Regions from separate parts of the Homo sapiens genome. Here region 1 is linked to region 2. The links come from fine-mapping of genetic effects on plasma protein levels. Region 2 holds a variant in brackets. A gene starts in the other region. All regions are shown on their reverse strands.

What was found. PIP is the posterior inclusion probability: the model's chance that the variant is causal. The UK Biobank Pharma Proteomics Project read protein levels with antibody pairs (Olink). The fine-mapping took linkage between variants from a reference panel, not from the people measured, so its PIPs are less certain.
Region 1: it holds the start of CDH17, and the variant in region 2 is fine-mapped to the plasma level of the CDH17 protein (UK Biobank, PIP above 0.99).

Annotation. Positions count from the first base shown.
Region 1 is chr8:94,198,637-94,215,564 of GRCh38, reverse strand. It overlaps CDH17 (cadherin 17), which reads left to right and starts at 7,010. Exons shown (of 18, transcript NM_004063.4): 1 at 7,010-7,082. It also overlaps the pseudogene RPL6P23. RefSeq lists an enhancer at 8,284-9,483.
Region 2 is chr7:100,880,502-100,889,708 of GRCh38, reverse strand. SRRT (serrate, RNA effector molecule) reads right to left here. Exons shown (of 20, transcript NM_015908.6): 3 at 8,296-8,424; 4 at 7,904-8,050; 5 at 7,468-7,656; 6 at 5,470-5,639; 7 at 5,157-5,341; 8 at 4,871-4,969; 9 at 4,669-4,786; 10 at 4,339-4,496; 11 at 3,947-4,008; 12 at 3,768-3,846; 13 at 3,274-3,462; 14 at 2,741-2,914; 15 at 2,509-2,662; 16 at 2,196-2,389; 4 more. The coding sequence ends at 1,160. UFSP1 (UFM1 specific peptidase 1) reads left to right here. Exons shown (of 1, transcript NM_001430944.2): 1 at 1-988. The coding sequence starts at 210. The coding sequence ends at 866. Among named protein-coding and RNA genes, the nearest start is that of UFSP1, 4.6 kb to the left of the region's middle. RefSeq lists enhancers at 3,172-3,905, 7,929-8,766. The variant C/T (reference allele first, on the strand shown) is at 4,610.

The DNA of each region.
Region 1 (16,928 bases), not on the chromosome of region 2:
AAAACTTAGAAAATGTTCATCACTTTCAAAAGCAGCCCCATGTCTTTTAGCTCTCAGCTCTAAATTCCCCCTCTGCCCCCCAACTGCAGGCAACTCCGAAATCTTCTTTCTCTGTCTATGGACTTGCCTATTCCAGACATTTCATGTGAGTGGATTATATAATATTAGGCTTTTTTTGTCTGACTTTTTTCACTAAGCATAATGTTTTCAAGGTTTAGTCTTGTAGTATCAGTATTTCATATCTTTTTATATGAATATTCTATTATATGGATAGACAAATATTCTATCATATGGATACCACATTTTATCCATCAGTTGATGAATATTTGGGTTGTTTCTATCTCTTGGCTATTATGAATAATGCTGCTATGAATATTTGTGTACAAGTTTTTGTGTGATGTTTTTATTTCTCTTGGCTATATACCTAGGAGTGAAATTGCTAAGTCAAATGGTAACTCTATATTTAAGTTTTTGTTAAAACTCCCAGACTGTTTACCAAAGTGGTTGTGTTATTTTACATTCCCACCAGAAGCATATGAGGATTCTAATTTCTCCACATCATCTTCAACACTGGGTATTATCTCTTTTTTATTATAGCTGTCCTGGTGGGTATGAAACACCCTGGTGGGTATGAAATGCCATCTTATTGTGGTTTTGATTTGCATTTTGCTTATGCCTAAGGATGAGCATCTTTTCATGTGCTTTTTAGCTATTTGTATATCTTTTAAAAAATTTCTATTCAGATCCTTTATTTTTTGATTGGGTTGCTGTAAGAGTTGTTTATATCTTCTAGATACAGTTCATTTGTCAGATACGCGACTTACAAATATTTTCTTTCCTTCTATGAATTGTCTTTCACTTTCTTAACGGTGTTTTTTGAATCACAAAAGTTCTTAATTTTGATTAAGTCCAGTCCAATTTGTTTTTTTTTCTATTGTTATTTGTGCTTTTGGTGTCATAGCTAAGACATCATTTCCTAATCCAAGGCCATAAAGATTTACCCCTGCTTTCTTCTTAGAATTTTATAGTTTCAGCCCTTATAATTTATGTCTTTGATATATTTTAATTTTTCTGAATGGTGTGAGGTCAGGGTCCAGTTTCATTGTTTTGCATGTGAAGATCAATTTCACAATTTACTAAAAAGAGTATTCTTTCCCAGGAAATACTTCTCTTAAGGGCAGAATTTCCAGAGGCAATCCTGTTTTGGTGTCTAATGAGAGACCCACAGGCACAGAAGGGGGACCATTTAATAAGCCTTAGTGTCCAAGTCTGAGTCCTTCCAAGCAAAGCTCACATGCATGCTGGTCTCCTACTTGACCCCATGACAGTACTTCCTAGGCAGTCACTGCACACTGTCTGGCTAAGTGGTGATGACCACCAGGGCTAACATGAAGGGGTAGTGTTCTAGGAGGCGTATGTTTTGGAGAATTAAAACAGTACAGTTCACTATGGCTGTGTGGAGTTTGTTGTGCACATGGGACACCTTGGCGAAGTTGTGGAATAGTCAGTTGGATATAGAAAACCAGAGCTTTGACCAGAGGAGAGATCTGGTCTAGAGAGAGACTCGAGATGTTGGCAAGTAGATGGGAGCAGAGTTGACCTCCACAGAGTGAGTGACAGGACAGGATAACCTGGGATTGGGCCCAAGGAGTTGGATGAGTCACAAGTAGGACTGCAAGGGACTAGCTCAAGAGGTGGAAGGAAAATCAGAGTATTGGCAAGGAAGCCGGGGTAAAGGGAAATTTGAGGAGAGCTCGCCATGGTGTTGAAAGTTGTGAGAGGTCAGGTGAGGTGCAGACTGAAAAGCGTCCATCTGATTATCATGAGGAGGTTGTTGGCAACCTCGGTGAGGGTGGTTTCAGTGGAGCAGTGAAGATGGAAGCCAGACACTGTGATCTGAGCATGAGCTGGATGGGAGCAAAAGCTTGTTAGGTGAAATCTGATAAGAGACAGAGATAGGTCTCAGAAAACCAATAAGAATGATGGTCATTTCTTGGAATTTAAAGAAAATCCAAGATCAAATAAAAAGCTTAGCTGTCTGAGAAAAAAATGTCTGAGGGAAGATGAGCATGCTCATGTCTACCAGATCCAGCTTGCATGTTCAACATCAGACCGACTGCATCATTATCTCAGACATTCCTGCAGAAATGGGTTCTACATGGTGGGGTAATTAATCTCAATTCAGAATAGGCTTTGCTGAAGAATATTTACTGGAGGATAAAGCAATGATTCCTTAAGCTAGTGTTTCTCAGAAGGGCCTATGTAATCACCTGCATCAGAAATCCAGAGTGCCAGCCAGGCATGGTGGCTCACATCTGTAATACCAGCACTTTGGGAGACCGAGGCAGGAGAATCACTTGAGCTCAGGAGTTCAAGAGCAGCCTGAGCAACATAGAACCTATCTCTACAAAAAATTTTAAAATTAGCTGGTGTGGTGGCACTTGCCTGTAGTCCTAGCTACTTTGGAGGCTGAGGCAGGAGGATTACTTACGCCCAGGAAGTCGAGGCTGCAGTGAGCCATGATTACATGCTGCAGTCTAGCTTGGGCAACAGAGCAAGGGACCCAGGGACATACCCTGAACCAGGATTTCATAGTGTAAGCCCCAGTTTTAGTGAACTTCAGTTTGGAAAGACCTGGAAGGCATTTGTCCAATGTACAACTGATGATGTGAATACTTACTAGCCATCCCATTCATGAGATTCTCCAGCCACTTCATGGCATGCGTAGCTGGAGCCAGATTGAGGGCCCCGCCTGCTGGGCAGTTGCTTGGAGCCAGCATCTATAGATGAAGTTAAAAATCTTCCTGGAATAAACAAAGTACAAAGTGGGTCCACTTCTGTCAGAGTAGATAGTGGGGAAGAAAATCTTTACTAACCTCAAACTATCTTCCTTAAATATTTTTCAGAATATCGCAAGGTGGCTGTCAGCTAAGATTTTTAAACAGCATTATGTATGATTCAGTGTTTCTTACTTAGAACTAGTGATTCATTTTGTTATCTAAGTTTTAAATCTTGTGATAATTCTCTCAAGTGTTCTGGTTTGGAAAACTGCCAAAAAAAAAAAACTCAACAACAGAGAAGCCTCCAAACAAAAACCCCAAACCCAAACTCAGAAGTAAGTATAGGCCAGGCGCAGTGCCTTACACTTGTATTCCCAGCATTTTAAGAGGCTGAGGTGGGCAGATCTTAGACCCCAGGAGTTGGAGTCCAGCCTGGATGGATGAAACCCCATCTCTACAAAAAAAATGGGATATGGTGGTGTGTGCCTGTAGTCCCAGCTACTTGGGAGGCTTAGGTGGGAGGATGGCTTGAGCCTGAAGGGCCAAGGCTGCGGTGAGCCGAGATCGCACCACTGCACTCCAGCCTGTCAGCCTGTGACAGAGCGAGACCCTGTCTCCAAAAAAGTAAGAGCTACATGGAAGTAAGACCTGTTTTGCTTAAATTTATCAGAAAATGGACTCTGTCCTGGCCAGCAAAAGTAGTTAAGAAAGATTCTGCTTCAGCCTAAAACAATGACTAGCAGAAAATTAGTTTCACTTCATTCCACTAAATAAATGTGGAACAAAAACTGTGAACTCTAGGTTTCAGGGGGTTCAAAATTATTTGCTTTTCTGGGTTCCTATTGGCCTTGGTTGAGCCTGCAGGTAATCATGACTATTTAGAATTATTGAATTAAATAACTGAATGGAGTTGAGTCCTAAGAAGTACTTATTGAGTACTAATTGAAGACAAAGTTTCTGCCATCATCAAGTTAACAGAGCAAGACAGATATTAAGTAATTAAAATATTATTTTACACTTCTGTTAGGTGAGGGTTGTGTGTTGATGGACTCATGATAAAATATTCTGAATGTGTAGTATGTAACACATAAAGAACATAAAATGCAAGTACTTGAAAAATTGAGAAATTTACCACTCATAGATTTCATTTTGAGTTTTAAAGAATAAAAATAGGCCAGGAGCAGTGGCTCATGCCTGTAATCCCAGCACTTTGGGAGGCCAAGGCAGGCAGATCACCTGAGGTCAGGAGCTCAAGACCAGACTGGCCAACATGGTTAAACCCCGTCTCTACTAAAAATATAAAAAATTAGCCGGGTGTGGTGGTGGGCACCTGTAATCCCAGCTACATGGGAGGCTGAGGCAGGAGAATCACTTGAAACTGGGAGGCGGAGGTTGCAGTGAGCTGAGATTGTGCCATTGCACTCCAGCCTTGGGGACATCAAGACTCCATCTCAAAAAATAAATAAAATAAAATAAAAAAGAATATAAATATTAGAAATGTAACATGCTTTGACTTTTAGGAATAATTCCAAGTTTTCATAACTTTTTTGTCTGGGAGGCTATCTAGACTTTCTTACAAATGTCCATAAATTAATTACTTATTTATGGACATTTGTATTTTCTAGGGATAATATTGGAGGAATGCTTAAAACATTATAGACAAAAGCGTTGAAATGTTTTCACCACCATGAAGCTGTGAGTTGAAAGCATTAGCCCAAGTCCTTTCACTTGTTCAGTTTTGTTTTCTTTTTTTTTTTTTTTTTTGAGATGCAGTCTTGCTCTGTCGGCTAGGCTGGAGTGCAGTGGTGCAATCTCGGCTCAATGCAACCTCCACCTCCCAGGTTCAAATGATTCTCCTGAGTCAGCCTCCTGAGTAGCTGGGATTACAGGCACCTGCCACCACACCTGGCTAATTTTTGCATTTTTAGTAGAGATGAGGTTTCACCATGTTGGACAGGCTGGTCTCAAACTCCTGACCTCAGGTAATCTGCCTGCCTCAGCCTCCCAAAGTGCTGGGATTACAGGTGTGAGCCACTGCGCCTGGCCTTCAGTTGTTTTCATCCTATAAATCATACCTCCTTTGCTTTGGAAAATTAAATCAGTAATATTTATCAATTACATTTTCCTTATTCCTATTATTAGCAAGTCTATTGAACCAGCAATGTCTCACTTTTCATGAAAATGAGTTCCTAAAATGCAGTGGTGGCTACCTGAAACGTGCACATTCTTAACATTTGGATTTAATCTGGAAGGATGTCTAAACCATGTAAGGAATATATGAACAGCTCTCAGAATCTTGTTAACCTGGTATCCCACAGTACAGAAATAGCTTCTGTAATTCAGAAATGCAATAATCACCTGTTAATTTCTCTGATGGGTGGTTTAGGCATTTTCAGTGTTTAATTAACCTAATTCTTTGAGCTGGAAGCTGGGGGCTAGAGATAGCAAGTGATGTACAGAGGAACCCCATTTCGGAACTTGGCCATCTTCCAACAGGAATGGGCTCATGCAGGGATTTCTGCCCTTGGACTTTTTTTTTTTTTTTTTTTTTTTTTTTTACTCGCATAAAGCTGGAAGGAAAAAAATCTGGCAGAGTCTATAGCTGTAGTGAATAGGATGGGATTTGAATCAGAACAGGGTTGCAGTCCCGATTCTGTAGTCAAAGGCTGTGTGACTTAGACAAGAAATAAAACCTCTCTGTGTCCCCATTTTCTGTCTATAAACTGGAATCTACTTTGCAGACATGCTAAATGAGAAAACAGAATTTTAATTGATATACCAACATGTCACGATCATTGTTATTGTTGCTGAAAAACAATGACTATAAATGATACATATGCACTTTATTTTTGAAAAAAAAAAACTCATAAATTTAAAAGCACTTTATTATTTTAAAATTTTCAAAGAAGACCCAAACTTCTTTATGAACAATGCTGTGTGATGAGATGCTTGCCCTTGATTCCAGGAACTGAAACATGTGGCAAGTGGAAGCGATTTGATTTTGTAGAACAAGCACACTTTATTCAGCTAATGGGAGGGCAGAGGTGTGAAGAATGTGAGAAGTGCTTAGCCTCAATAACCTCATTCTTCTAAATGAGTGATGCTGGCTGTGGGACAAAGCAAGAAGGGCCTTTGCTGAACCCACCAGTCCACCAAGGATGTTAACAGCTGGCATGCAACTAGATGGTTTCACTTGCAGGGTCCTCAGGATAAATGAGGTCTATTCCCACAGTGGCTTAGAGCACTCATGAAACCTTCTCATGAAATCTGGAAAGGAGGGAGCCCTTCTAGAGAGTGGGCTGGGCTCTCTTGCTTTCCCTCTGTCAGATGCACACCTGGAGAGGAATGGAAAACACAACCTCAGCTCAGGAGAAGCCAAGAAATGAACATGAGAAGGTCCACAGAAACAGGGCCAAGTGTAACACACCAGACACAGACATGACATTGATGCTCACCTTCAGTGTGGATTCCCAGAGTGACCAAAGTGTGGAAATCAGGAATTGGTCTAAAAGAAGCCTTGACTTGAGAAATCTGGGGGCATTGGCTTTTATTGGTTAATCAAAAACCTCATTTTGATTGGGGAAAAATAAGTTGTTCCTAGGTAAATCCATTCCCTGAATTGTGGGGGGGAAAAAAGGACTTGGTTTGTGTTTGGGGGAAATTTGCTATCGGTTGTTTCTTGCAGACTTTGGAAGGGACCCTTGGATTTCAAAAGCAGGCACAGCCATATTGTGTCTTTCCTCATGTCTTCTGAGTCATTTATGATATCTCATGTGGCTGGTTATCAATGAACTGTGTCATTGCTCAGACATGGCGCCCCTGCTCCGTCTTTTGTGTTTGAGATGGAATCTACATAAATATTTGCTGATCAAGTCTCCTGTGCTAAGTGTTGGGGGTACAAAATATGGAAAGTCTTTGATGTCATGAACCTCACACTCTAGAGATAGTTGGATACACAAAAACTTTTCCACTCTAACTTCTTGTCTTTTCATTGACTCATCTACATTGAAAAATGTAGCAACCTGTTTTGAGATGGATTAGATGTAAGTTAAACTTCTTTTGATACAAAGTCATTTCTTTCCTGGAGTAAAAGTAATGACACTTTTTATGATACCCAGTGGCTCTCGAAGAGCAATAAAAAATGTTAATGGTTAATGTTTGACTGAAGCTGAAGGGAGAGGCTGGGAGGCAAAGCAGGGAAGAGGGAGTGTTCCCGGGGGAGATACTCCAGTCGTAGCAAGAGTCTCGACCACTGAATGGAAGAAAAGGACTTTTAACCACCATTTTGTGACTTACAGAAAGGTAAGGGCTGACATGTCTTAACTGTGTCAGTAACGTATTTATTCCAGAAGGACAAAGTAGATGGAGGGGGAGGGCACTTAAAAAGTTGCTTGACAAATTTGTTCCTTGAGGTGGGCTATGCAGATGCGGAGAAGGGAAATTTGTTGCTGGCATGACAAGTTTTGCTTATGGAGCACAATTTTTTTTTGTAGTTTCTTTTCATTGGTCCATATTTTATAAATTCATTTGATGAAGTGGCTGCAGTGAAATCAAGCTTGGCAGTGGAATTAAAGGGGAAATTGAGTTCTCTGATGTTTAAACAAGTATCACATCCATTCTTTGTGATGAGTATATAAAAGTCCCTGGTCTTAAGATGCTCTAGGGCTCTTGTATTCTAGAAATTGGGGTTGGAATCACATTCTCAAAAAGCATGTCATTCTATCTACTTCTCAGAGAATGAGATTCAATTTGGGATTCTTAGAATTGTCTAGGACACAGCAAGGGAGGGAACATGCAGAGAAGAAGAAAAGTCTTTTTGTAAAAGTACTAGAATAAGAATTGAAGACAGACAGACCTGCCTTCACAAGTGAGAGAAGAGGCTGATGTGCGTGTTAATCAGCTTCCTGGGCTGCTTTTGGCCTTGGTGGTGGAGTTACCACCTGCTAATGTGTGGTTATTTTTATGTTAAGCCACACACAGCTTATTGGTATCTTCAATGGTCCGATATTTGCCTCTGTCTTGGTCTTTTATGACAGGTGACTTTATAGGGACAGATGCCCTCTGTGGTAGGGGATGCCAAGCAGCAGATTGGAAGGACAGTGCCTTCTCTAATATTTTCTTGTCTTTATTTTTCTTCAAAAGCTTAAATAGCAAATGAGGCATTATTTGAAAGAAGAAGAAAAAACACATGTTTAGATGAAAGGAAGATGAATGCTATTCAGCTCTCACCAGGAAACAAAGCGAGTCCTTTACTGAGAGAGGGTTTCTAGTGAGTTACGGGGCCATATGAGTCTTCAGGGTTGGCCAAATGGGTTAGGCCAGTTTCATCATTTTCCAACCTGTGGGCACAGAACAGAGAGCTGCCACTAGAGACTTGCCTAACTAGGTAGTTGTGAGAAGTAAATTAGATAAGTAGGTAAAGAGCTTACTATGTTGCTTGGTGCATGGTACACATCCAGTGAATGTTAGCGCTCTGTTCCATGAGAAAGTTCAAGTAGGTGACTCAGGATGAATTGAGAAATTTTTGTTTCATTCTTTAGAAAAATAAGAAAAAAATCAGTGATGCCATAAAAATAGCATCTACCATTATGCAAGAGAGGAACTAATTCTATGTTCAGGAAGTAGGATTCAAAAATATGAGAATAATAAAACTATTGGTTTTGCTATATATATAGCATTTTAAAGCCCCTCTCATGGTTCCCATATAAGTCTTTGGGTGAGGTGCAGGTGGGGCATCCTTTGAAACTCACCCAGATGACCCCTGAAAAAAGTCATCACTGTTCAAGGTGAAGGTTACATTTCCGGTACCTCCTCCTTTCTCATACAAAAGGCAAAATATGGCTGGGTGTGGTGGGTCATTCCTGTAATTCCAGTACTTTGAGAAGCTGAGGAGGGAGAACCGCTTGTGCTGGAGTTCAAGACCAGCCTGGAAGGTCTGAACATAGGGAGATCCAGACTGTACAAGAAAATTAAAAATTAGCCAGGCATGATGGCACTTACCTATAGTCCTAGCGACTTGGGAGGCTGAGGTGAGAGGATTCCTTAAGCCCAGGAGGTTGAGGCTGCAGTGAGTCATGATTGTGCCACTGCATTCCAGCCTGGGTGACAGAGTGAGAACCTGTCTCAAAAAAAAAAAAAAAAAAAATCTGGATGATGTGCAAAATATATCCTGGCAGAAACTCTACTTCTCGTTCCATTGTCAAAAAAAATGTCTAGAAGGATGTGTCCCTCATTTTTCTTCCACATTAACAGCAACAGCTCTGAGGAGGAAAGCTGGGCATTGTCATGCTCCTTGCTCTGGAGGCCGACAAACAGTGCTTGAACAGAAGCTGGTTCACATGGGTAGAGATGTATAGATTTGACATAAAATTGCATTGATTCAGAAATCTCTGGTATCAGATTTAGAATGGGGCTAGTTGTTCTGTAACTGCTCGTTGATTATCCAAAGAAAGACACACGGAATTTTAAGGGAATACCTATCTACTTATTTGTTACTTGTAAGAACAGACAGGAAGAAGAAGGAATGTTTACTTAGGTACAAGAAATATTAACTTAATAAAAGCAGATATTCCCCTAGTGGCTGAGGTATTAACTACACTAAAGTTGATTTTTTTTTTTCACTTAAGCAATACGTAACAAGCTAAGCTATGCTTGATTTTTGTGTATGTGGTACAAAGAAAATTTCTCTTCAAATATTCTGTAAGACTGACATGGAATTCTCTCATTCATGATATTTCTGAGTTATTCATTTTTGACCATATACTTATTACTTAAAAATATTAGGACTTGTTCTTAAGTGACGGATGAGGAGAATGGAAATGGTAGATTTGTTCCCTTAACATCTAAGCTAAAGATGAGTTCTCTTCCTCACCAAGAGGCCATCTAGCAGAGTGGCTTGGTGCTTGGCCCCTGCATTCACACCACTTCCTCAAGCGCTCTAAGCATCAGTTTCCTGCTCTGTGGGATAACAACAGGACCCACATTATATGATTGTGTTGTTCAAGTAAGTTGTCCAAAGTGTTTAACTTAGCTTGCATTTGTTGAGCATTTGCTATTTTTTAAAACAATTCCAATGATTAAAAAAAAAAACAATTCATGAATGAGATTTCATCGTGGTCTGGCACCTTTTATTAAGCAGAATTAAATTTATTTTCCCTTCCTCTCCTACCCATCCCAGTTGTCAGTTACGATTTAATTACAGAAATTGGAAAGTGAACCTGCCATACTTAAGCATGACTGCACATTCTTGGCATTAAAATTCCTGCCTTGGGTCACTTTGCAAATGAACTGGTATTAGAGTATTTTTCTTTCTCTTCTCTTCTCTTTTCTTTCTTTCTTTCGATCCTTCAGTGTCTAAATCCTATGGGATGGAACCTAATTTAGATTTACTTCCTACTGAATTTCTAAGGCCAGGATGTGTTGCTTTATTATCTTGACAAAATGCTCATCCGTAAACTTTATATTACATAAAGAAATGTTGTGTAATACATAAAGAAACACTTTGTCAAAAAAAAGTCAAGCCACCCTTTATGAGAAATAGTGATTCCAGTCCTCCTCTTTAGTCCAGGGAAGATGCTTGTGATATTGTTCTGCTAGATCTGGGGGAGAAAGGGTCTCCCCCTGCCACCTTCTAGGGTTTTTGCGGGTATATAGCTGCACACGTGAGGGAAGTCAATGCTGAAATTCTTCCTGGCTACCTGCTTAAAACCCATTTATGCCTAGTGTTCCATTATTGGAACACTAAGCATGTGGGAGTTATTTATATCCTTCTGCACAAGGTCATCGTCAAGGTCTGATTGCAAAAATTCAAAAAATTGCAACCTCAGGTATAAATGGGTTACAACATCAGGCAAGTGCCCTGGTGGGACAGTCACTGTTGTCCCTAGGTCAGTGGCTCCCTTTCCTGTGACTGCTCTGGCCCCCCTTCCATTCAATGCTGGGATGTTTTGGGAGACTTGGAGGAGAGGCCTCTTCTCCCCAGCTGATCCTTCCCTTGCTCTGTCTTGGGGAGCACTGGGGGAACAAACGCCAACCAGGAACAACATGACACCTCTCTCAAATATTTCTTGGAACTTGTTATTCTTTTCTTTAATAAGAATAATTATGCTAGTAATCCCATTACTGGGTATATACCCAAAGGATTATAAATCATTCTACTATAAAGACACATGTACACGTGTGTTTATTGCAGCACTATTTACAATAGCAAAGACTTGGAGCCAACCAAAATGCCCATCAATGATAGACTGGATTAAGAAAATGTGGCACATATACACCATGGAATACTATGCAGCCATAAAAAAGAATGATTTCATGTCCTTTTCAGGGACATGGATGAAGCTGGGAACCATCATTCTCAGCAAACTAACACAGGAACAGAAAACCAAACTCTGCATGTTCTCACTCATAAGGGGGAGTTAACAATGAGAACACATGACACAGGGGAACATCACACATCGGGGCCTGTCCTGGGGTGGGAGGCAAGCGGAGGGAGAGTATTAGGACAAATCCCTAATGCATGTGGGGCTAAAACCTAAATGACGGGTTGATGGGTGCAGCAAACCACCATGGCACGTCTATACCTATATAACAAACCTGCATGTTCTGCACATGTATCCCAGAACTTAAAGTAAAATTTTTAAAAAAAGAAAAAGTGAGACAAACATTTTTTAAAAAAAGAATAATTATGCTAGTAATGTGTATTATAATTGATTATATCAATCTAAACCATTTTAAGTTCTCCAGGGGACCATTTAGCCTCCCGTGAGCCCATCTTCCCTATCATGAACCTATTGGTAGAACAAATCATCACCTCTAATTTTGCATGTGTGTAAATCCAGATTTTCATATACTGAAAGATTGGCATATCTATATTACAGAGTTTAGTGACAGAAAGCTGGGCTTATGTTTATGTATGTATGTTCATCCCTCCCTCCCTCCTTTCCTTCCTTCTTCCCTGTCTTCCTCTCTGCTCTAAAAACAAATCATCCAGCTGCCCATTCCCTCCCCATGTGGAGTAATCTGTTTGAAGTGTGAGGCAGAAGCCCAGATTTATACCTGTCTGCTTGTTTCTAGCTTATTAATGGCCACTTTAATTGGGTCCTTAATTTGTCAAAAGTGCAAATTGGTCAGATGCTTCTGCGGTTCTCTAAACCTTGAGTGATGCAATTGGTGCCAGAGATCTGTGAGCCAGACCAAAAAGATGGGCGTGGCAGATCTGAACATTAATCGATGAAAAATGGTTTGGGCGAGATTTTCATCTGATCTTTATATCTATCTGGCCTTGCCTTATAATTTATGCCGCTCTTAGCAATATACAGTGAGGAGGAAAAATAAATGGCTCACAGGATATTTGGCACTGTTTGGTCCTGGTGGTGTTATGAATTCCAGTCACATCCCTTCCTGCCCACACTACCTTAGGATATTTGAAAACAAATTCTGTAGCTCTCTCCTTCTGCAACTTCTTTGTTCTTTGAAGCTTCATGGCTCAGCCTTAGTGCTAGGTGAATTATTTTAATTCAAAGCCCTTCATGCTTTTTAAAAAATAAATAAATAAGAGATGACTGACTCTAAGATTTGTCTATCACTTAGCTTTTTTCACGGGGGACAAAAATCAATGCTTATGTGTTGACTTGTAAATCTGGAGATCTGGGACGTAGAAACTCCTTGTCCTTACTCAAATAAATGGGTAAATGACAAGAGCGTCTAAACATCACCTTCCCATCTTGCAAGATGGTGGGTGAAAAAGTTGAGAAGCCGGATACTAAGGAGAAGAAACCTGAAGCTAACAAGGCTTTGCCAGTGGCAAGGTGAAAAGGGGAACCTCAGAGCTAAAAAGCCCAAGAAGGGGAAGCCCAAAATCCTGTCCTCATTGGAGGAATTGGCAGATATTCCTGATCTGCTATGTATTCCAGAAAGGCCATGTACGAGAGGAGGTACTTAGCTGCTAAACCCAAGATTGAAAAGAATCTCGCAACCGTTACAAACCCAGTTGAGGTGACAAGAATGGTGATGCCTGGCTATTTAAACTTCACAAAATGCCTTGATATTATCCAACAGAGATGTGCCTCAAAAGCTGTCCAGCCATCGCAAGAAACTCTGCAGTCAGCATGTGAGAAAACTTGGAGCCAGCACGGCCCTCGAGACCATTCTGCTCATCCTCCCTTGGTGCCACCAAGGCAGGAGGGTGGTTTTCCTGGAGCAGCTGGGCAGTAGCTTGTTACTTGTGGCTGGACCTCTGGTCTTCCATGGAGTTCCTCTGTGAAGGACACACCAGAAATTTGTCATCACCACCTCCATAAAAATTGATATCAGGACTGGGTGCAGTGGCTCACACCTATAATCCCAGCACTCTGGGAGGTCAAGGTGGGTGGATCACTTGAGGCCAGGAGTTCGAGACCAACCTGGCCAACATGGCGAAACCTCCGTCTCCATTAAAAATACAAAAATTAGCCGGGTATGGTGGCACACACCTGTAATCCCAGCTACTTGAGAGGCTGAGGCATGAGAATCACTTGAACCTGGGAGCTGGAGGTTGCAGTGAGCTGAGATGGCGTCATTGCACTCCAGCCTGGGCATCAGAGCAAGACTGTCTCAAAAAAAAAAAAAAAATCGATACCAGCAGTGTGAGAAACCCAAAACATCTTACCAATGCCTACTTTAAGAAGCAGTTGTGGAAGCCTAGTCAGTAGGAGGGTGAGATCTTTGACAGAAAAAGAGAAATGTAAGACTACAAAGCAGTGCAAGGCTGATCAGAAAACCATGGACTGGCAAATTTTACCAAAACTCAAAGCTATTCCTCAGCTCCAGGGCTACCTGCAATCTGTGTGTGCCCTGGTGAATGGAATTTATCCTCACAAATTGGTGTTCTAAATTTCTTAAGAAGAACCTAATTATGTAACTAAAAAAAAATAAATGAATGCCGTTAATCCCCTTGGGAGCTTGGAGCCTGGTGGGAGAATCAAGGAAGCCTTGGGTGGGCTGCTGGGATGCGGGGGGTCCCTAGGTGTCTAATGACTGAGCAGAGCCCCCTGTGAGGCCACCTCTGTCCTGGGACAGCAGCACAGGCTAAACAAAAGTTCCATGGGGTCTTCATTTGCTAGGGCTGCCTTAACAAAATACCACAGAACGGGAGGCTTAAACAGCAGATATTTACCATCTCAGTTCTGGTGACCAGAAGTCCAAAATCAAGAGGGCAGTAGGGTTGGTTCCTCCTGAGAGCTGTGAAGGAAGGATCTTCTGTGCACCTCTCTCCTTGGCTTGTAGATGGCTGTCTGTACATTCACACAGTGTTCTTTCTTTGTGGATGAGCCTGTCTCCAAATCTCTTCTTAGAAGGACATCAGTCATTGTGGATTAGAGCCCACTCTAACAACCTCATTTTAACTTCGTTACCTCTGTAAAGACTCCAAATAAAGTCACATTCTGAGGTGCTTGGAAGTTAGGACTCCAACATATGCTTTTTGAGGGGGAGGGAGACACAATTCTACCCATAGCATTTGGATTGATTTAAAAAAGGGAAGATTCCTAAGGTGAAGCACAGAAATGAGGAGAAATAGTGAGACACAGAGATACATTTGCAGTAGAAACAAAACTTCCCAGACCAAGGCAGCCTTTTCCTCCAGGCAGGTCGGGGCAGGTCATGTCAGCATCTGAAAAAAAGAGCAGCTGCAAAGTAGGGGGAAAAAACCTTTTCAACATTTTGGAAAGATCTGTAGTGGATTAAATGATACTTGGTGTCTCATCATCAGGATATTTGTGTTTCAGAGGGAGTGAAAATTAGCCTGGCATTGTGACCTTGGGCAAGTCTCTTAATTTCTGTGGTCTTCATCGTTTGATTTTTCATTTCATCTTTAAGAGGTATATTATAATAGCATCTGCTCCATAGAGTTGTTCTGAGAAATCAGCAAGATAGTTTTTCACCACCAAGTCTTATCGGTGCATGCAGCAAATTGTTTTCAGTCAATGTTTGCTGCCTTTGTCGTTATCCGGGCTGGATGCAGATCCAGGCCGCGGCGGGATTCCCATGTCTTCTGTTGTGTGGTAGATTAAAATGAGGCACTGTTCCTGCAGAGCAAGCCCAGCAGCCCTGGTTCCCGTCTGCAAGCAGGTGCCCTGGTCTACTGTTGAGCAAGTGGTGGTCATGGTGGTGCCCATTGGGTGAGGGGCAGCCACAGTTTGGGAACCGAGGCCTTCTTTTCAAAACTCCTTTTTTTGTAAAAAAAAAAAAAAAAAAAAAAAAAAAAAAACAAAAGATAATAATAATAACCCTCTGATCTATGTTGCAAAGGGTGTGCTTGGTCTCTCAAATAATTGCTGTAGTAACTGTCTGAATTTAGTCCTTGTATCTGAGGGAAATCCTGACAAACGGCAAAAATTCCACGCAGACGGTTGGCCAATTATTACAGGTAGTTCAGATAAAATGCCACAGAATCCTCTGGAAATCTATTTCAATTCTTTTCCAAGTAGTGTTTTTGAGGAAACCTAGGTGTCTGGCTTGGTGGTTTCGGGCAATTTCAGTGATGAAGGATGGCTTCCCATCAGCACCATTGCGACCCAGGGTACCCCACACTTGAATGGTATTGTGTCCATGGAAGGAGGAAGTGTAGGTGGGACCTGTTTGAGAGACCAAAGTCCTCTTTTGACATAATCCTAGCACTAGTGTAGTTTGCCTTGAATCATTCGGGTAAAGGCTTTGCCTTGCTGCCTCATTTGGCTGTGAGGATGTTCCTGTGTAGGCTGTTTTTAGAATATTTTCATTAGTGGGCCACCAAAAGTTGGGAATTGTGAAGAGAAATGTCCTGTTGGACAATGTTTACAGTTTTGACTAAGCAAACGTGAGTGGCAAAATGAATTTTTGGCCAACAGTATTCCAAATATTAACTCGCTGAATCTCTTAACTCTCGAAGGTAGGTATTATTATTATTATCCCTGCTTTATAGATGAGTAGATAGGGCCACGAGTCAGCCGGTGGAGGAGTTAAGACCCAAGCCAGCCAGTCTAACTCCTGGGTCTATGCTCCTAACAACCGCATGGTGTGGTAGATTTGTCTTCAAATAAATCATGGCACCCTACGTGTGGCAATGGAAAGCAGTGACTTCTACTTCCCACTGGAAACCCTCGGTGAGGGGCAGGCCTAAATGTAAATGACAAAATAAAGGATAAGTACATTTCTCCTTCTACTTCCTAGGTTCCATTGAAACATCCCAGACAGTGATCTCTCTGAGCATCTGACCAAAATAAGGCATTCCTTTTATTTTTATTTGCTTTTCTATCATTTAACTTGTGTTTTTCTGGAAGACTGAAGGTGTTAAAAAAAAAAAAATTAGTTCAAGAAGAGATGATCTAGTTCGACCAGTTCTGGGTTATTTACTGAGCAGAAATCTGTTAGTGTATTCAAAGGAGAAACAACTCTTTTCATCAACAATAAAAATGTATTACACAATAAAGCTTTGAATGTTGAATGAGTTTCCTTTAATATATCATGTTTATTGAAAGCTCTTACAGGTGAGAACAAATTAATAAGATATCCATGTTAGGTAATCATAAATGTTTTAGAATTTACCCAACATCTGATGATGGCTTGATATATGCAAGGGATAGTATGAAGAGACCTGATAAGTTAAAAATAAGGCCTCTGCCCTTAAGGATTTTATTTAATAGTGGCAGTAATGCTAACAGACAAATGATAAAAAAAAAAAAATATATATATATATATATATATATATATATATATATATATATATATCAATCAGAACTGGCTCTGAGAGGAAGAGACTGGCTGGAAATCAAGGAAGATTTCATGAAGGAAGTAGGGTTTAGGTCCTAGCTCCATGAAGATAGAACCTGTACCCCTTATTTTGGTACCCCAGTTCTTGGCACGGTATCTGGGACATACTAGAAGTGGTGTAGTTCATTGCTATTTAAATAATTAAGTTGAACTTAGATGGTAAGATGTGAGAAGCAGAAATGAGGAAACATCTCCATCCAACCTCATTAAGCAAATATCCATTGTCCATTTTCTCTGGGCCAGGCCTTGTGCCAGGCAGGGAGAGCAGCAGGGGTGAGAGCTTGGCTGCCAGAGAGCTCAGGGTGCAAAGTCCATCTGGGTGGAGGTGTGACTGGGTGTGGGAAGGGAGTGGCAGATAAG
Region 2 (9,207 bases):
GAGCTCCTCGGTCGGTGCCGGTCGGTGGCTGCCTATTGCGGCCTGCGGTGATCAACGAGGCCCGGGGAGCGCGTCCCCAGTCTGCGCGCCGGTCCTGCGGCAGCTGGCCCAAGACCCGGAGCCGAAAGGAAGTGTTGGAGCCTGAGGTCGCTCCGCGCCGCTAGGAGGACGCTGTGCCTGGCCTGGGACCTCCGCTCCCGCCCACCGCCCTGGAGCCGCTGAGGGACGTCCACGTGGGCCTGTCCCCGCCGAGCCGCGGCCCTGTCCGCCTGGCGCTGCTCTCGGGCCACTACCTCTACTACCACTACGGCTGCGACGGCCTGGACGACCGCGGCTGGGGCTGCGGCTACCGCACTCTGCAGACGCTGTGCTCGTGGCCAGAGGGCCAGCCCGCGGGCGTACCTGGACTGGCCGCCGTACAGGCGGCCCTGGAGGACATGGGCGACAAGCCCCCCGGCTTCCGGGGCTCCCGGGACTGGATCGGCTGCGTGGAGGCCAGCCTCTGCCTCGCTCACTTCGGAGGGCCCCAGGGACGCCTCTGCCACGTACCCCGGGGAGTGGGGCTGCACGGGGAGCTGGAGAGGCTTTACTCGCACTTCGCAGGGGGTGGGGGCCCAGTCATGGTTGGGGGGGACGCAGATGCCAGGTCCAAGGCCTTGCTGGGAGTCTGCGTAGGGTCAGGCACGGAAGCCTATGTCCTGGTATTGGACCCTCACTACTGGGGCACTCCAAAAAGCCCCAGTGAACTACAGGCTGCTGGGTGGGTGGGCTGGCAAGAGGTGAGTGCAGCCTTTGACCCCAACTCCTTCTACAACCTGTGCTTGACCAGCCTTAGCTCCCAACAGCAGCAGCGCACCTTGGACTGAGGACGAAGTTACAGAACTGAGATTCTCGGGTCCCAGACACGCACCTATGTACCTCCCACTGGTGTCCCTGCAAAGCCTGGCGCTTTTGACATCAATAATAAAAGTGGCAGGGCTGAGCAACACCTCAGGAGTTACTCTGGAAGGATGGAGGAGTTATGTAACACACGAGAGTCAGGAGCCCTGTGGAAGTGCTTTTATTAGCAGTAAGGCTGATCGTACAAAAAATTCTCAGAGCTTCATAGGACAAGGTAGTACAAGTATGGATGATACAGGACTGAGGAACGGGGGACGGCTCAAAAGAAATCAACATCGTCTGGGGCATCCAGGTCCCGATATTCCACAATGGCCCTTGGGTCTCCACGAACCATCCTGTGAGGTGAGAGGTACAGGATGAGAGCTGAGGGCTCCCAAAAGGGAGTCTGCAGGCGGCAACAAAGCTTGGGCGTCTGCCCTCCTCACCTGTTGCGAGGTTTCCCAGGATAACCTCCCTGGCCTCGGAAGGCATCATAGTTCCCTCGACCAGCACCATACGGGGCATGGGGGTATGGAGGGCCTCCTGTGGGGACTGCAGGGCGGACAGCACCAGCTATGACAGAGATCAGTGTTGAGTTGCAAAACTATGTCCTCAATTCCATCCTCTGTTTTCTTCTCCCAAAGCCACACACTCACCAAGCCCCTTCATCTCCCTCCTGTACTTACCTCCATAGCCCAAGATCGGGGGCCGGGGCTGACCATAGGGCATCAGGCCCTGGGGAGTCTGGTGTGGGTAGGGGAGTCCTGGGGTCAAACCTGGGGGGAGTACAACACGGACAGGGACATGAATTACTGCGGGGGCGGGGAGGGGGATACGGGTACAATTGACTTCTAGGGCTATGGCCTGAGGATGGGGCAGAAACTTCTCGGGGTGACACGTTAAAGAGAAACAGGAGTCCCTGGGTAGTCAAGGAAGAGGGCACATGCGACCTTCATGGATCGTATCTTACTCTGGGCGGGGCCAGGTGGCTGGGCTGGCTTGATCTCAGGCAGAGCTGGGCGCTTAGCATCAGTGAGGAAGTTGTTAAAAAACGCGACTTCCTTTTTCACTTCCTCAATTTTCTCTGCATGCTTGTTGAAGATATGTTTGCGCACAAACTCAGGACCCTGGGTGGAGAGAGGAGAGGGGTCAGGACAGCCACATAAGGGTTGCCTCGCTCCCAGGCCCGAGCTGGAAGGATTCCCAGCTCCCGCCTGCCAGTGCAGTAAGCAGTTCCCCCACCCCTGCCCAGGGGGCTTCCTGTCTCAACCCCACCTCCCACCACCGTAGCACGGCCATTCTCCAACATCCCACACCTTGAATTTCTTGCCACTGAGAGGACACAGCCACTTATCCTTGCCCAGTTCCTGCGTGTTGGAGGTGACGAACTTCTCCACTTCCTGCTCTGGGTCTTTGCGCCCCATCTTCTGGGCCTCTTCCTCTGAGAGTGACTCCCGCACACTCAGCAACGGCGTGAGCTTCTCCTCAAAAGTCTTCTGCCACTCCAGCACTGTGGTTTGGGAACAGAGGAAGGAAGGTTGGCAAGGGAGCCAGAAGGAAGGATGGTGGCAAGGGGCTGGAGGACCAAGGCCAGGGGCAGCCGGGAACAAAGGGGAACCTGGAGCTCACCTTCCCCGTGACTGATGCGGTTGGGTGGCATGGGCCCCCGAACGTGGATGATCCCACAGCGATTGGGCATCTCGTCCTCGTTGGGGTACTCACAGGTGTTGTAATAATCCAAGGAATGCACGATGCGCAGGTAAAGGAGGAGCTTGTCCAAGACCTAAGGGAAGTGAATGCGAGCGTTCAGCTCCTGCCCTCACCGCCCGAGCCCCCACGTGCCCCGCGCTGCCACTGGCACCTTAATCAACTTCTCATCCCGCTCCACGTTGATCTCTGCCGGGTTCCCTTCCTTAGGAGGCTCCTCAGGAGGAGCGCCCCCGCTGCTCCCCAGCAGCTCCTCCTCCTCGGCGCTTACTTCCTCGATCAGGTAGTCGGTGATATTCTTCAAGATCGGGTTTTGCGAGGGCAGGCTCTGATGGGAGGAAGAGAAGCAAGTAAGGCAGAGAAGACCTTCAGAGGAGGTAACCTGAGACTTTCCACAAGTGAAAGAGCAGCGAGGGGACAGGAGTTCACCGGACATAAATGGCACCTTTTGCCCCCTTGAGATTTGTCTTTATTTTAGCTTTTGTTCCACCCCAGCCACAAATGATCACTAGCATCCCCCCAGTTCTGCTGGAATCTGGAGGTGCTGCTACCCACACACGAAGGGGCAAATGAGTGAGCAGGCGAGTGGGTGCAAGGGTTCAAGGCTACAGATAGGTAAGGTCAGAGGTGCCCACAGCAGAGGCACTACCAGTTGCTTCTGACAAAGTCCTTTGGGGAGTCACTGACCGTGGGCAGGGGAGGCGTCCCTGGTTCTGAGGCCCAAAGCTGTGTCCTGTCATCCAGCGTGTGGATCAGCTTGGCCGCCAGCTTGATGTCGTTGCGCACAATCTGCTTGTGCTGGGTGATGCCGTTGATGTTGCGAACGCGCCGGGTCAGGTCCCTGTTCACACCAGGGCTCAGCTCACACTCCCGGAGCTGGAGGGCAGACATCATCAGCAGCTTACCCCACTTACCCCGCTTGCCAGAGAAACAGCAGCTCTAAGACCCTTCCCTCTTGAGCACCAGCGATTGATCAGACTGCGAGCTCCCTGGGGACGGGGACCACATAGGTTCCGTCCATGCTAACGCCCTAGAGCCTTGCCCAGAGACAACGTAGCCAGACAAAACGGTCAAAGAGTGTGCAGAACAACCAAACTATCAGATGAACAAAGTCACACAGAGGTCCCGTGTGGCACAGAGTCTCCCTTCCTCTTCCCCACAGTCCCACCCCCAGCACTCACACGGATGTTCTGCAGGTTCCAACAGATCTCTTTAATGTTAACACTGCGGTCGAAGGTCACCCAGCCACGACGGAAAAACCTACACAAGAAAGAAAATGTTAGCATAGTCAAGCGAGGGAGTTGGTGTTGGCCATTAACGTTCCCCTGCACTTTTCCCTCCAACGCACCGAGTTACTCACCTCCTCTCTGGCTGGGGCTCTGAGAGCGCCACCCGCATAAAGCCTGGGTACCTTTTACAAAGCTGCAAGAAGCAGAAAAGCAGCCCCACAGTGACTCAAGGATTCATTCGCTTCTTCCTCCAATCCCCCACTGCCCTCAGAACCCTAGGGACTAACTGCCTTATCACTCTTCCCATCCTTGGGCAGGGAAAAACCACTAAAGGGCTTCAGAACACCAGCACCTGAAAGCCAATGGCGCTATCAGGACTAGTCCTCGGAGGCCATGGAACCTGGGGAAGGGGCCTCCCTAGCAGGTGAAACGGGGGCATCTGTCACAGGCAGGGCCCCACTGCCTTCCCTCTACCCTCCACTTCTCCATCAGCCCTGCCCTGACTCCACGGGTCCCCACTCACGGAGATGATCTCGGCCCGGGAGATGTTGGGCGCGATGTTGCGCATGAAGAGGGAGCAGGTCTTATGCAGCGGCCGCGGCTTGCACTCCAGCCCCGCGGCGTCCTTGGGCTTCTCCCATTCTTCTTCCTTGGGCTTCTCCTTCTCCTTGAGCGCTTCTTCTAGGCAGGAAGGGGGGTAGGAAGGAGTTGGTGCATTTTTATTACTGATTGTGGTGGGGAGGATACAGAAGCTTTCCCCTAAAAGCCACCCACCCTCCCGTCAATGTCGCCAA[C/T]CTCTCACCTCCCCACCCGCATTAGGAGAACGCACTTTAAAGCAGAAAAGAAACCCTACCGGCCTCCTCCTTCTCCTCCTCAGCCTGGCCGCTCTCTGACTCCGACTCAGACTCTGACACGCTGCCCTCGTCAAAGCTGTCGTCACCACTGTGCTTCCGGTTCCGCTTCTTGCTACTCTGTGTGAGCCACAGCAGAGGGGACAAGTCAGCGTGCCAGAACCCCAGCCCCAACACTCTGACCCCAGGCCACAGACACCTCACCTTTTTGGCTTCCTTCTCGGAGTCTTCTTTCTTCTCTTCCTTGTCCCCATCACCCTCCGACTTCTTTGTTTTGTCATCATTAGAACTGTCATTCTCAGCCTATGGTAAGAGACAACCACTGGGGATGTCAAACCTCCCCTCCCACCTTTATCAGAGGGCCCCCACCCCCACAGCTGAGGCCACAGGTTCATTTTCCCCAGCCCCCTACTTCTAGCTCCTATGGACCCCTACCCGCCCCCCTCCCCCAGGCTGCCAGGGACAACACTAGGAGACCCAGGGCTCGGACCTGCTTGCCGTCTTCCTTCTTCTCATCCTTGTCGTTGGTTTTGCGCTCCCCGTCCCCTAGGCCTGCTCCAGCCCGTCCTTCTTCTTTCTTGCTGGGCTCCCCAGGCTTTCCTGCCTGCTCCTCCTCCTCCTCCTGCTCCAGGATGCGAAGATCATTCTCCGTGCCTCCTTCCATCTTAATCACGGCTACCAACAAAGGGAACAGAGGTCATGACCCCAGGGCCCTGGCTCCTGTCAACCGGCTTCTACCTGATCCCCAGACACCCCCACCCCCATGGGGCCCAGATGCCTGCCACCCCTCCAAATCCGCACACCTGCATCCAGCATCTTGACAATGGCATCAGCTTTGTCTATGTCCAGGAGAAGGTTATCAAACCAGCCAGTCTCCATGAGGGACAGGAAGACCCTCAGTCGGTTTTGCAGGGCCCCCCGGGCCTCCTGCCGACGCTTCCCCACCTCATCTGGGTGGTACTTAGACCGAAACCTGGGAACGAAGCGGGGGAGGGAAAGACAAAACAGTTATTGGAAGCCAAGGCCAGGATGTGGGAAGGGGCCCAGGAAAGACAGGGCATATCCCCCTTCCTCTCACAACCACAAAAGGTCATCAAAATAGAGAGATTAAGGGATAGGGGTGCGCTAGAACCACCCAACACCCCAAAAGGAACCAGAAGTTGTGTTCTGTGAAGATTTGGGGGAGAACCAGGAACTAAGAGCTCTGGATTTGGGAAGACCAATGACTACAGGGGGACGCCAGGGTAGGAGAGGCAGATTTACCACTTTAAATCTCTGGGAAACACTAACGTAGTAAAAAGGTGTCATTTCCCAAAGCTTCAGAGAGGAAGGCTCAGGAAATAGCAGGCCCTGAAGAACCTCCCTCTCCTCACCAACCCCAAACTGCAGTCATTCAAAAACTGCTCCCGCCAACTCCCTCCACCCCGAGGTGGAAGACAGAGGGCCAGATAGCAAAAGCCCAGAGGCAGGGCACCTTTCTCCACCCGTGGGAAGATAAGCAAGACGGTGAAGGGACAGGAAAGACCGAAGGGAGACACTGGAGTGCCCTTTAGAGCCTCAGGTCCTGCCCACAGGGGGAGAGAGAGGAGAGGGCTGGAAGGTTAGGGAGAAGAAAAATAAAACATTTCAAATAGGACCTCAGAGGGAAAACAGAAGAAATGAGGAGTATGAGGAAAAGGGGAAAGGGAGGAAAGGGGAGAGTGTGAGAAAGTCCCAGAAACCGAAAACAAAGGGAAAAACTAAAGATCAGAGAGAGAAACTAAAAAAACCAACAGGGAAGAAGGTGGTGTTAGGCAGGGAGCAAGAACAGAAACAGAGAAGAATGAAGGTGCTGAGAGATTAGGACAAAGACACAGAGCAATTCGAGAGAGGGGACAGCGAAGACAGAACAGAACCACGAGTGGGGCAGAAGAGGAAAGGAAAGCCGCAGGCATCACCTCCAGGATCTTTACCTTGGCCGCTTGGTCAAACAGAGCTCAAGATTTAACTAGCGGCGCCCAGGGCCCATGCTGGCTGGTGGGCCACCGGCTGGCTCCTGGCTGGGCGCCCGGCCGAGATGCCCACGCGGGACTCCGCAGTGGGGCCTGACTGGCTAGCTGCCTGAGCAATCACATTCAGCTAAACCGCTGCATTGTGCACAGCAGTGCCCTGGCCTGTCTGCCTGGCCGGGGCCGCGCAGCTCAGCCCAGGGGCTCATGTATGGGCTGGGTATGGTGGGGGTGGAGGTGGGTTTGCTCCGAGCTCCGTCGATGAGCGGGTGTAGTTCCCAGTTCTGGCTCTTTTCAAGGAGGAGGAGCAGAAAGAGGATGAGGAGGAGGAGGAGCAGGAAGGGGGGAAAAGATGGTTGATTAAAATTAAAACATCCACAAAAGGAAAAAAAAATTAAAATTCTTTTTCTGTCAAACGACCGAGATCTTTGCTTTTCTTGTCTGGATTCACTCGTCGCTTTAGGAGGACGCCACAGCCACACAGGGTCCTGGTGATCAGGGATGACAATGACCCAACACCAACAAGTGGGAAGCAGTCTGTCTGCTGCCCCAAGGGGCCAAGTGGCTCTGGCCTGCTGCCTGGAGGTGTCCCACTCTCTGAGGACAGCAGGACAGGAGACAGGGCGGGGCGGGGGCCGTGGCAGTTGCTGAAGTGAGGGGGAGACCCCATCAGCCAATGCTGTCATACTTCCCGACCCCCGCCCCCAGAAAGTTCTGGACAGGGAAAACTGGGAAGAGGACAGGGCTGTGGCTCCACCAGCGGGGCCAGGGGGACATGCCAGGGCAGAGGTCCAGGGAAGTAGGGGCACTCACCACTCCTCATCTTTGTGCGCCAGGAAGAAATCCTGCATCTGTTGCCTCCGGAAATCCAGCTTGTAGTCATTATAGCGCTTGACGGCCTCCGTCTCATCCACCGAGTCATCCAGGGAGAGGAGAAACTCCTTGAAGGTCTTCATCACGGGCGGCGGCACACCCAGGTCAATCTCTGCAATGCTGCCCAGCCTGGAGGGGACCCCGGTCAGGAAGGCTTGGTTTTTGGGGAACGGTGGGAGGCTACAGGGGCCAAAGTAGCTGGGGCCCCTTTACTTTGTCCACCATGGACATCACCCCAAACCCCAACAGCTACCACCCCTACCCCAGGGACATGCCTCTGTGTGCCTGACCCGCTCCCTGGCTTCAGCCATGGCCTTCAGCAACCCCATCCATCCCCCAGGCCTACCAACCCTCTTCTGAGAAGCCCCACCCTTACCTGGCCTGGATAGGCAGGACATGGTGCTGCATGATGTGGACGTCAGGGTGGCCCCAGGGCTGAGGGGGGCCATAAGTTGGGCCCCCACCCCCCCCAGCATAGGGCATCTCATAGCCACTGTGGTATGGGTCAGAGCTGTGCTCATCCCTGAAGGTGGGGGACACAAAAGTAAAGCAGAGAAGGGAGTCACCTCCCCAGAGCATGGAGGATGGACAGACGGGGGTACACACAGCATGGTCTCCCAGACAAGGGTTTCAAGGGACAAAGTAACGATGGGTGATGGGAAGTTGAGAAAAGGAAATGACAAAGATTTAGGCACAGGTGAGGGGAGAAAGGGGAGGCCCAGGTGGAACTGAGGCAAAGGGGAGGAGAGGGAAACCGCTCCATCTCACCAGTCTCTCCTCATGCGCTTCTGTGGCGGGCTGAGTTCGTGGCGAGGTGGCGAGAAGCGCTCTCGCCGATTCCGGTCATAGTCCCGATATTCACCCCGACTACGGCGCTCACGGCCACGGTCCCACTCTCTGGCAGTAAGAACAAGTAACAAAGATTAAAGGCCAGGCACAGTGGCTCATGCCTGTAATCCAAGCACTTTTGAGGCCGAGGCAGAGAACACTTGAGGCCAGGAGTTCGAGACCAACCTGGGCAATAGTGAGACCCCCCCCCGCCCCCCGCCATCCCTACAAAAAATTTTTTATTTTTTAAAAAGGTAACAATAATTAAAGATACAGCTGGATATGCCACAGCCACATTCCTAAACAGGCCCTTCTTACACCCTGAGATACCAGACTAAAAAGCCTACAATTATAAAACTTCGCTCCTAACAGAAAAAGATTTTTCTCTAGTCAGGGCAAGCCACTGCACTCCAGCCCTGGCAACAGAGACCCTGTCTCAAAACAAAACAAAACAAAGATTCTTGTCTAACTCCATGAGTTCAGCCAATACCCAAGAACTGATGGTTCTCCAACTCTTCTCCCAGCCTGGCCTTCCGCCTGTGCTCCAGACCCACATGAATCACCCCTGCTACAGGCCCACTTACGGGCAGGTCGCGGCTGCAGCAAGCTTCGACTGCACCAGTGCACTCAGCCCGGGTGACAGAGGGAGACCCTGTCTCTAAAAATAAAACAGAAAACTTTTTAAAAATCATCCCCTACTAGAAGTCCATCACCCCCTCAAATTCAGCCTGTCAGAATCAAGCCTATTCAGCCGGGTGCGGTGGCTCACGCCTGTAATCCCAGCACTCTGGGAGGCCGAGGCGGGCGGATCACGAGGTCAGGAGATCGAGACCATCCTGGCTAACATGGTGA